2 separate regions of the Homo sapiens genome follow, and region 2 is linked to region 1. Evidence: fine-mapped expression QTL. Tissue or cell type: prefrontal cortex. Region 1 holds a variant in brackets; the other region holds the start of a gene. All regions are shown on one strand. Distances are from middle to middle. Region 1 holds the start of TMEM179 (transmembrane protein 179). Region 2 holds the start of C14orf180 (chromosome 14 open reading frame 180).

Evidence for each region. PIP is the estimated chance that this variant, and not a neighbour inherited with it, causes the effect.
Region 2: C14orf180 starts here. The variant in region 1 is the best candidate, but not a certain one, in a credible set for the expression of C14orf180 in prefrontal cortex (BrainSeq, PIP 0.88).

What each region holds. Positions count from the first base shown.
Region 1 is chr14:104,602,333-104,607,695 of GRCh38, forward strand. It overlaps TMEM179 (transmembrane protein 179), which reads right to left and starts at 2,440. Exons shown (of 4, transcript NM_001286389.2): 1 at 2,105-2,440. The coding sequence starts at 2,409. The variant G/C (reference allele first, on the strand shown) is at 3,146.
Region 2 is chr14:104,576,934-104,582,296 of GRCh38, forward strand. It overlaps C14orf180 (chromosome 14 open reading frame 180), which reads left to right and starts at 2,831. Exons shown (of 5, transcript NM_001008404.3): 1 at 2,831-3,070.

The DNA of each region.
Region 1 (5,363 bases):
TCTAGAGAGCCACCCTCTGTCAGCCCCAGCTGGACCACAGGCACCCTGAGGGACACCCAGGAGGTGAAGAAGTGCGTGAGCGATGAACCAACTGTGGCCCCACCTGGCCTGCACCCTCCACCCTCAGCTTCCCAGACTAAAGGGACCTCAAGCGTTGGGAGGCTGACCCTACTCGCTGGCTGTCCCACTCCCTCTTCACACCTGTCTCATTCAGGGAGGCTTCCACCTGCCTGCCCTGCATGCACAGCATGGACTGGGCAACTCTTGGGTTTGGCAACATGGGTGCAGATGACGTCTCAAGCCTCTTCTTGGGACACCAGCCCTGGAGTGGGCTGAGGGAAGGAGGACGGCTGCAAATGGGCAGGACACCACCCTGCGCCCGGCCTGACCCCACCTTGAGCAGGGCTCCAGCCACACAATTTGGGCCCATGGCCCCACAGTACCTGGGTCCTCCCAGGCTGACAGCCAGCTTTCTACTGACCCCCATCCAGAACCTTAGTGTCGTGGGTTGAATGGTGTCCCCCGAAAGATATGCCCAAGTCCCACCCCTGGTACCCGTGACTGTGACTTTGTTTGGAAATAGCATCTTTGCAGGTGTAATTAAGCTCTGGATCTCAGGATATCTCCCTGAGTTTAGAGTGGGCCCTGAATCCAGTGACTGGTGTCCCTGTAAAAAGAGGGAGGACAGAGCAGAGCAAAGGCGCCCTGTGAGGACAGCGGCAGAGGGTGGTGGGACAAGTGGGTTTCAGTCCAGTTGGTGCAACTGTGCTGCAGCAGCCCCAGGGCGCTCCTACCCACAGGCGCTGGGATTCTCATTCCTCCTCCAGAGTTTGCAGCCCCACTCAGCATAGCCCTGGCTCCCTCCCTTCTCCCTGAAGCCCCTCTTCTTCCCCTCTCTGGCCCCTCTCTCAGCCAAAACCAAGCGGTGGGCTCACAGCGGGGGCAACAGGAGGGCTTCCCCACTCCTGCCGCCCACACCCCTCTGAGCCCTTCTCATCTCCCACCTGCGTGCAGGAAGTGAAAACCTACAACAAAGGATGGGGGTGAGGGCAGAGTTTGGGAGGAGCCTGGGTTTCATGAGTGCTCTCCCGGAACCTCTACAGGATCTCGGGCTGCTCCTGGGCACAGCAGGCCTCAGCCAGGGGAGTGGGAGGGCCCACAGAGGGCACCCACAGAGGGAGTGGGTGGGTTCACAGAGGGAGTGGGTGGGCTCACAGAGGGGGTGGGTGGGCTCACAGAGGGGGTGGGTGGGTTCACAGAGGGGGTGGGTGGATTCACAGAGGTGGTAGATGGGCTCACAGAGGGCACCCACAGAGGGAGAGGGTGGGTTCACAGAGGGAGTGGGTGGGCTCACAGAGGGAGTGGGAGGGTTCACAGAGAGCACCTGCAGAGGGAGTGGGTGGGCCCCCAGAGGGCCCCCAGGGTGCCACTGGCTAAGGGTGTCACCGCACCCCAGGTGAACCAGGTTGTATGGGCTCCAGTATCTAGCCGGAGCAGGAAAGAGAAAGAGGAAAATGCAGGCCAGGAGGAGGAAGGCGCTGAGCCCACAAGGCACAGCCCTCGCCCTGCAGTCTCTCTCCAGCTCCCCATCCAAGGCCTGAGCTCGAGGTGGGCCTGGGTGGCTCCCCTCCAGACAGCCATCTGCCGTCCCTTTCCCGGGGCGATGGTGCCGGGTGGGGCTCCCCAGTTCGCCTTGTCACTGGGACCTGGAGAGCTCAGTGCAAGCCCTAGACCGGGCTGGGAGTTGTCGCCGGTCCTGGCGAGTGTGGCCCGGCTGAGCCCGCCCAGGAAGGTCCAGGCCTGCTGGGTGATGACAGTGCAACATCTGCAACCCAAGGGAGCAGATGCCCGGAAGCGGGAGGTGATGCGCAGCTGGGGAGGGGAGGCACTGGCCTTGTACGCAGGACCGGTGGTCGTCATGGTCCCTGGATGTGTGTGTAGACAAAGGGCGGTCTGAGTGGAGGGGGTGAGGGCGGATTGTTGACATTTGCGGGCCTCGGAGCTGCCTGAGAGACGGAGGGACTCGCGCGCCTCCCCGGGGAGGTGGGTCTGGGGGCGCTGGGGGCATGGAAGGGGCGCCGCGCCGGGAGCGGCCCCCACTTACCCCTCGTGTCCCTTGCAGAGGAAGAAGAGCGTGCGCCAGGCGTGCGCGGCGGCCAGCAGCAGAGACAGGAGGCTGGCGAGCAGGCTGAAGCGGCAGGCGGCCGGCGGGCCCCACTCCTGCACCGTGAAGCGCTCGCGCTCCTGCACCGTGAGGTTGGCGCTCAGCCACATGCCCTCGGTGAAGAGCAGGCAGCGGCCGCGGAAGTCGTGGCCGTTCTCGGACAGCGGGACCACCACCACGAAGCTGAACAGGAAGGCCAAGAAGTAGCAGGCGCACTGAGCGAAAAGGAAATTGTTGAGCGCCATGGCCGGCCCGGGCGAGAGCGGCGGCGGGAAGGCCGCGGGAGGCTGCGCCGGGCGGGGAGGCCGCGGGAGGCTGCGCAGTGGCGGCGCCGGCAGGTCCCGCGCGCCCCTCCCGGGACGCGTGCGCATCGGCCGAGCGCGGGAAGCGCCTGCGGTCAGCACCGCGGACAGCTCCTGGTGCGCGCGGGCCAGGAGCCCGGGGTCCAGGGGCCAGAGAAGGGCGGCCTGCGGGAGATGCGGGAATTTTACCAGGTCGGCCTGGAGGGACCGACCCTGTGCCGCTAAAGACTTCGGGAGCCACCTGTACGGGCCTCACACAGGCCGACTCTGGGTCGTCAGTTCCTCATCAGCTCGAACGAAAGGAGACCAGGAGAGAGAGGGCGGGGCGGGGGGTGTTGGAGGACACCCCCAAGGTGCTCATAGTGAGGTGTAGGAGTGCGGTTTGCAGTCCAGGCTGAAGTGATTCCTTTGCGGGGGTCCCGAAATGCAATGTATGAGGGGAGGGGCCAGATCGTGGAGGAGTCGGGGTCCAAGGGACTGGGACAGAGGTCATCCTCGAAGAGATGGGGAGGGTGAGGCCAGGTGTGGGCAGGAGGGGGTGGACCGGGAGCTTCTGCAGCGCCAGCCCTCCGCGGGGACGTGTGTTACACTGCCTGACATGGGCAGGACCCTGGAGCTGCATTTGTAAGATAAATAATGGGTGTCCCGAGCGCCTCATTAAGACATCTTTGCTGAGATG[G/C]AAATCGCTGAGGCATTAATTAATAGAATTAATGCCTTTTCTAGTTGCCTTTAAGACTAAGTCACCTTTAGTCCAATTCCCAGAGTGAGGAAGCCTTAACATTGCTCCTCCTGGTTTAAAATTCCATCAGCATTTTTGTTGCAAGCATTAAAAAATATTTTTGTTTTATTGACTAAGTAATATATGCTCATTTCTTAAGTCAAGTAATAGAGATATGTATACAATAAAATAGAAAGCCTTCTCCTCATCCCCCTCCCCTACCCCATCACACTACCAGGGGTGACCACTTCAATAGCCTGGCATCTATTTTTCTAGACATTTTGCTAAGCACATAAGCACACACACAGAATTAACAAAAATGCTTCATACCATACATAGTTTTCTGAAGGCTGATTCTTTTATTCAACAAAATGTCAAGGAGATTATTCCCTGCCTACACATACACCTATTTTGTTCTTTTTAATAACTGCATAAGACTCCATTATAATGATGATTCCACAATCTGCATAACTATTCCTCTTAAGGTGGATGTTTTGTGTCTCCAGTTTTTGCTGTCTCAAATGCTGTCATGTGAACATTCTTGTACACATATGTTTGCGTTCTTGCACAGGCATTTTTATAAGAGAAATTCTTAGAAGAGGAATTGCTGGGTCATGGGGTATGCACATTTAAAATGTTGACAGAAATTGCCAAACCGGCTTTAAAAATGTTGTTCAGCCGGGCGCGGTGGCTCACGCCTGTAATCTCAGCACTTTGGGAGGGCGAGGCGGGTGGATCACGAGGTCAGGAGATCGAGACCATCCTGGCTAACATGGTGAAACCCCGTCTCTACTAAAAATACAAAAAAATCAGCCGGGTGTGGTGGCGGGTGCCTGTAGTCCCAGCTACTCGGGAGGGCGAGACATGAGAATCGCTTGAACCTGGGAGGCAGAGGTTGCAGTGAGCCGAGATCACGCCACTACACTCCAGCTTGGGCGACAGAGCGAGACTTGGTCTCAAAAAAAATAAAAATAAAAATAAAAAAATTAAAATGTTGTTCAAATTTACCCTCACATCTGGGTTGTAGACCCCTCCCCTCGCTGGCTGAGAAACAGCAGTTGTAGGCAAATCCTGCCAGTTTCCACAGAATGCGCTCATTGCTGTGTGAACTTGGACTTGCTTTGGCATCATGAGGCTGAGCATATCTTCTTACGCTTGCCACCATTTGCAACTTCTTCTCTTCTGTGGATTGCATTTCATTTTGCAGTCACTTTAAAGTCGGGCCTTGAAGGCCAGCCACGAGGTCAGCAACGGCCACTCTTCTCTTGGAGAATCCACTCAGGGTTTTTACCACTCTTGGAGTATCCCCAATTCTCCCCAAAGGGAGCTCACTCAGGAAATTCACCCCCTCCCCTAACTTGGGCAAGAGTGGAAGTTCCATCCACTCATTATCCAGCAGTTGGACCAATTTGAACACATCTGGGGGTGTTACACTTCCAGACTCTGGCCAACATGAAGGAGACCATGACAACTGACAGGGAACCGCCAGCACTGGAAACCGCAGACTAGGCTGGAAAGATGATTAAATATCTGCCATTTTCAAAGGTCAAAGGTGCGAGACTCTGGCATGTCTGTGATTAGTTCCACTTACCTTCAAAAATCAAAGACTTATCTTGTTTGTATTAGTCAGGGTTCTCCAGAGAAACAGAACCAATAAGATGGAGAAAGAGAGAAAGAGAGAGATTTATTTTAAAGAACTGGCTCATGTGATTTTGGAGACTGGTAAGTCTCGAATCTGCAGGGTGGGCCAGCAGGCTGGAGACCCAGGAAAAGTCAATGTTGTGGTTCAATGTCGTGGCTGCAGAACTCCCTCTTACTGGTGGGGGGAGGGGGATTGGGAGGTGGGGTCAGTCTTTGGTTCTATTCAGGCCTTCAACTGGTTGGATGAGGTCACTGCTATAGTTTGAATGTTTGTCTCTTCTGAAATTCATGTAGAAACTTAATCCCCAATGTGACAGTGGGGCCTTTAGTAGGTGATTTGGTCCTGTCCTTATGAATAGATGAATTCTTTTCATGGATTAGTGGTCTCATGGATTAATGGGTTGCCCCAGGACTGGGACTGATGGCTTTATAACAAGAGGAAGAGAGATGAGCCGGCACACTCAGCCTCCCCACCATGGATGCCCTGCACCACCTTGGGACTCTGCAGGGAGTTTCCACCAGCAAGAAGGCCCTCACC
Region 2 (5,363 bases), 25 kb before region 1:
CAGCCTCAGCTGGGTGTTTTCACTGCCACAGAGGGAGCTGGGCTCAGGACAGCCTCAGCTGGGCATTCCCACTGCAGCAGAGAGAGCTGGGCTCAGGACAGCCTCAGCTGGGCGTTTTCACTACCACAGAGGGAGCTGGGCTCAGGACAGCCTCAGCTGACAGGGGTGCAGCCCTGAGCCCCGGAGACGCCTGGAGAACCTTTGGACCCATTTCCACCACAAGCCCTGGTGCTGCAGTCGGCCAGCCTGCACGAATTTCCCCCCGGGCTGTATGCCAGACAGGGGAAGGGCCAGCCTCCAGGCCTCTGCGCAAGAGGGCCACGGCCAACTCCCACCCCCTGGGCCAACGCTGGCCTCTCTTGTGCCTGGGGTCCTTCTGCTTCAACCAGCTGTGGACCCCACCCCCATCTCCCCCACCCACCGGCCCTTTCTTCTCTGGCCCAGGTCAGCCTAGGGCCTCCACACCCTCCAGCCCCACCCCCGACCCTGCCTGGAGCCATGTATGAGGCCATGCTGAGGCCCAGGGCTCTCCGCACTCCAGCCAGACCATGGTCCAGGGAGAGCTGGGAGTCTAGGCCAGCACCACGTGGCCATGACCAGAGTAGCCACAATCTCCAGCCCCTGCAGCCTCCACTCCCACGTGCCGCCCTACTCCACCCCGGCCACCTTCCAGGACCACCCCAAGGAAACAGCCCAGCCCAGCCAGCTCGCTGGACTTTCCCAGCGCTCAGGAGTGCCCAGCCACTGGACATGCTCCGCCCTCCCGCTGAATGACAGCTGGCCTTAGTTGCTGTGTTCCCGGGGCACTGCTCAGGGTGGGTGCACCACAAAGATCTGGGGAGGGTGGGGCATCCGATCATTCCCAGCTCCCGGGGAGAGATGAGGGTGTGGCGGAGGTCACCTGGCTGAACAGTGACAGAGCTGGGCCCAAACCTGGGCACCACGTCATTGGCACCACTGCCCGTGGGCACATGTGCCCACCTGCCGGCTGCAGGCAGGCCTGACACAACTGGGCTCTTCCCTGGCACTGCCTGGCACAGGCACTGGGGACCCTCCGCGGACCCGGCAGCTCAGCACTCCCCTGGGCCAGCCTTATCTTGCCCTGCAGAGCCCAGGCTGGAGTGAGGCGCAATGGACGGAGGCGAGGAGGGTGCAGCCGAGCCCTATCAGATACGGCCGGAAATATGACCCCGCTGGGACCTGAGCCCTGAGCCGAGCCATCAGCTCACTAATAAATTACCCAGAGCGAATGTCCACAGGGTCAGCCCGCATCGCCTTTCCAGGGAGCACAGAGAGGGGGCGGCACCCAAGGTCTGTGGGCTGACCGTTCCCTCCCCTCTGTCAATGAGAAGGGTCAGGAAGGAGTTGTCCCGGAGCCCCCCGACCTCGGGCAGTGCAGCCTGACCTCTGAAATCTGGGAGGAGCAGCTCCAGCCCTGGGAAGCCAAGGATAAGCGCCCAGATTGGGCACAGGCGGGAGAGGGTCTTGTCTGGCTACAGGACCTCACTCTTCCCAGGAAGCCAGACTGCCAGCAGGACCACCCAGCCTTCCTCAGTGCTCTCCCTGGAACAAGCGTCAGCGAGCCAAGGCCCTCCTGCCAATCTGGCCCACCCCGTTTGTGTAGACACAGAGCGCACTGTGTGCCATATGGCCCTGTAAGAGAAAAGTTTGCTCCCCCATGCCCTGTACTGAAGACGGCAGTGAGGGGAGGGCCGGTCTGCTGAACCCCATCCCAGTGGCTGCGTTGCTCATGCTCTGACGGTGGGTTCCAGGACTCTGTGTCCATGCAGCCCCACGGCTGGCCCTGAGCAGTCACCCTCTGTGCACACTGTCCCCCAGCCTGGCACACCCTGGGCTCCCAGGGGTCCTGTAGCTTTACCCAAGGGAGATGCACCCCCATTCCTAATGGAGAAACACGGGTCTCTCCACACCTCCTCCAGCAGTCCCCTGAAACAGGTCAAAGCCCCACAAACCAGGCAGGGGTCTGCCCACATGTGGTGGTGCCCTGCGCCAGTGATGCCCTCACCAGCCTCTTTCAGACCTGCCTTTACATGCACCAGCAGACGGGGGGGCTGGCGAGGACGGGCCACCAAGCCTGAGCCAGGCTACCACCTCCGGGCTGTGTGACTCTGGACAGGGTGCCTCAACTCTCTGAGCTGCACTTTCACCTACAAATGAGGGGCAGACTCAGCAGCGCCAGGCAGGGCAGTTGGACGCCCACCCAGGACAGACCCTGAGAAAGGCTGATCCCTCACCCCTGCCATCGCTCACTGACCCATACATTGCCCCTTCCTGCCAGGGCAATATCGAGGGTCGGCCAGTGTGCCCCAAAACGGCAGCTTGGGACCCATTCTTTGCCTCTCCCTCTGGCAACCCCAGGTCAGGACTCACAGGGGCACAGGGGCCTGGGGCAGGGCGGGCACTCTCGCCACCACGGAGGCCCCATGCTGGGTCAGGGTCTTATTGGAGGCTGGACTCTGTGATCACCTCACCTCCCGCAGCCCCACAGTGCCCTCCCTCTCCCACTCTGCCCCGAATTCCAATCCATAGGTTTTTCCAAGAGCTGCACAGCTCTGGAATTGACCTGGGAGGGGGCACATTTGGGCCGGGAGGGGTAGGAACAGCAGCAAACTCTGGTCTTATCTGAAATCATGGTCTGTTGTCCACCGGGGGCCTGGGAAACAGCCACCCCCTTCTGCTCCGGGGCCAGCGGCCTGTCCTCGGGTTCACTGCTATTTCTGCCAAAGGGGAGAGGTAATTATAGCCTGGCCGCTGCCAGCTGGCCCAGCTTTGCGATCCAGCAGAGAGGGCTGGAGACGGGACGAAGGCCACAACAGACCCGGCCCTGCCAGCGGGCGGTGGCGCCTCCAGATCAGAGCCCTCGGGAAGGAGGCCTGGGCGGGCCTGGCCCGTTCACCTGTGTGCCCTGCAGTTCTGCCCGAGGCTCAACTCTCAAGGGCCTGGGAGGGGTGCTGCCGGCCAAGAGGGTCCAGGACCTCACTGGACTGTGCCCCACAGGGAGATCCCGAAGAGCCTGTTTCTGTCCCTCGGGGAGCCAGGAGGGAACCAGGTGAGTTCCAGCCCCAGGGAGAGGGGGCTCACTTCCTGCTTGGGTATGAAGATGCCAGAGCGGAGAGATTGCCAAAGGCAGGTGCAGGTGGGGAACCTGCCCCAGCTGGGCAGCAGGTGTGGGCAGAGACTGGGCAGAGCGGAGAGATTGCCAAAGGCAGGTGCAGGTGGGGAACCTGCCCCAGCTGGGCAGCAGGTGTGGGCAGAGACTGGGCAGAGCACACACTGATGATCCTGAGTGACCTGAACAAGCTCCAGAGTGGCCACCCTTCCCCCTTCTCCTGGGACTGATGGTTTCCCTAAAACGGAGACAGTCCCAGGCCGGCCCTGTGTCCACACTGAGGCCAGGCCGCCTCTGGGGGAAGCAGGGAACACGGCCACTTCAAACTTAGCAGCGGGGGTGCTCCTGGCCACACAGGAGCTTCCAAAGGGCACCTGATGTTGCGCGAAACAGCCTGGGCAGTGGGAGAAGGGGCTGCACTCTCAGGGGAATGCAGGCAGCCGTGCCAGGCATGAACCCAGCCAGCCTTCCCTGAAGGGCCTTGGTGGGGGGCATCCTCCGAGGGCAAGTCTACGCAGGCCCAGCCTAGCAGGAATGGATTCGTTACTCCAGTAACTGAAGCCTAGTTCTCAGTGTTTGGGAATCCCTGAGAACTGGCTCTTTTCTGAGCCGTCAGTCAGAAGGAATCCCTGTCCTGCCCTGTGTGGCCATGGGACCCCCACCCAGCACTGGACGCCACGCCATTTCTTGGGCACTACTGAGCTTTGCAGTGCCCTGGACAGTTGGCAAACAGCCCCCATTCCACATATGGGAGGAAGGGCCTGGGGGGGTCCCCCGCCCTGTCTGTCTGGAGCTCTCGAGGCCTAGGGTGGCCCCTGCACCCAGCAGATGAGCAGCCATCACCCGGTACTGCTGCTACCTCGAGCCCTAACTGCACCTCGGGATGTGAGGGCCCATCTAGGCATGGAGAGGGGCCTCAGGGGGCCACCAGGCAGCTCCTGCTCCTGTTCCTACCTGGTAGGGCCTGCAGGCACCTGAGCAAGCCCAGTGGGCGGTCAGCCCAGCCAGGGGCCTCCCCACAAGTTCTCCCTCTTACTTAAGTCGAGAACGCATGTTGTCTGGGGAGCTGCCAGCGTGGTTCCAGTGGTGAGCGTTGGGCTGGGAGCCAAGGCTTTTCCCAGGAGCCCAGCCACCCCGCCTGGCTGTGTTCTGCCTCCGCCCTGCAGAGGAAAGGCCAGCGAGGCAGTGTCCATGGTCCCAGTCTTCTTCCACCGGAAGAAGGCACAACCTGCATCTGCAGCCCCAGGGCCATTGGGTTAGGCCTGTGGCCAAACTACTAAGGTGCTGGGAGACTGAGGAGGCCCAGCTCCTCCTGGGGCCACCAAGCCCGTGGTTGACGGCCTCCCCATGGACCGGGCTGTCCCGAGAGCAGCAAGTCAGCCGGGGCCCTCAGGGCCGCTGAGGCCACTGCTCAGTGTCGCCGTAATGGAAACTTCTCAGCTGGTTGTGAGCCGCAACAGCTCTGGTTCACACCCTGCGACAGCGAGGCTGTGACCGCCAGTGGATCTCGGGGCTGATCAGGCCTGAGCCACCCCGGAGGTACAGCACCAGCAGGAGCCCAGGTGGGCAGGGGCAGAGAGAGAGAGAGAGAGAGAGAGAGAGTATGTATGTGTGTGTGTGTAAGTGGTGGGGGTGGGGGCTGTGAGTCTCCAGCTTCTCCCAGGGAGGTCTCTGGCTTCCCAGGAGCCTGGCCCCCTGTCTCCAGCTCCCAAGTGAGTTGCCCTGGGGGAGGCTGCACCTGGAACAGGGAAACAGGGAGCCTGGCCCCAGCCTGCACTCGCTCAGGCCCCGGGACCCTCTGCCCCTGGAAGGCTGTGAGGCTGCCGTGTGAATGGGTGCAGTGCCAGGCGAGGGGTGAGCCGGGAGTGTGGGGCCGCACGCTCAGAGCCGAGGAAGGGCAGTGCCAGGCGAGGGGTGAGCCGGGAGTGTGGGGCCGCACGCTCAGAGCCGAGGAAGGACCTCCCATGTGGGGTGGGTGGGATGTCAGGATTTCTCACGAGCCAGCTGCTGCATGGGGGGCACTGCCCGCCCCGAGGAACCCTCAGGGAGGACAGAGAAACATCAGGAGGTGGGCTGTGGGCAAAAGGGCGGGCGGCACGGGCCAGGCAGAGGCAGCAGCCTGGGAGGAGGCGGGAAGCCAGCGGGCGGCGTCCTGGAGGACGGGGCAGGAGTGGGAGGGAGCAGCAGTGGCTGGGCCCCAGAGCTTGGCGTTATCCAAGCCACAGAACCAGGC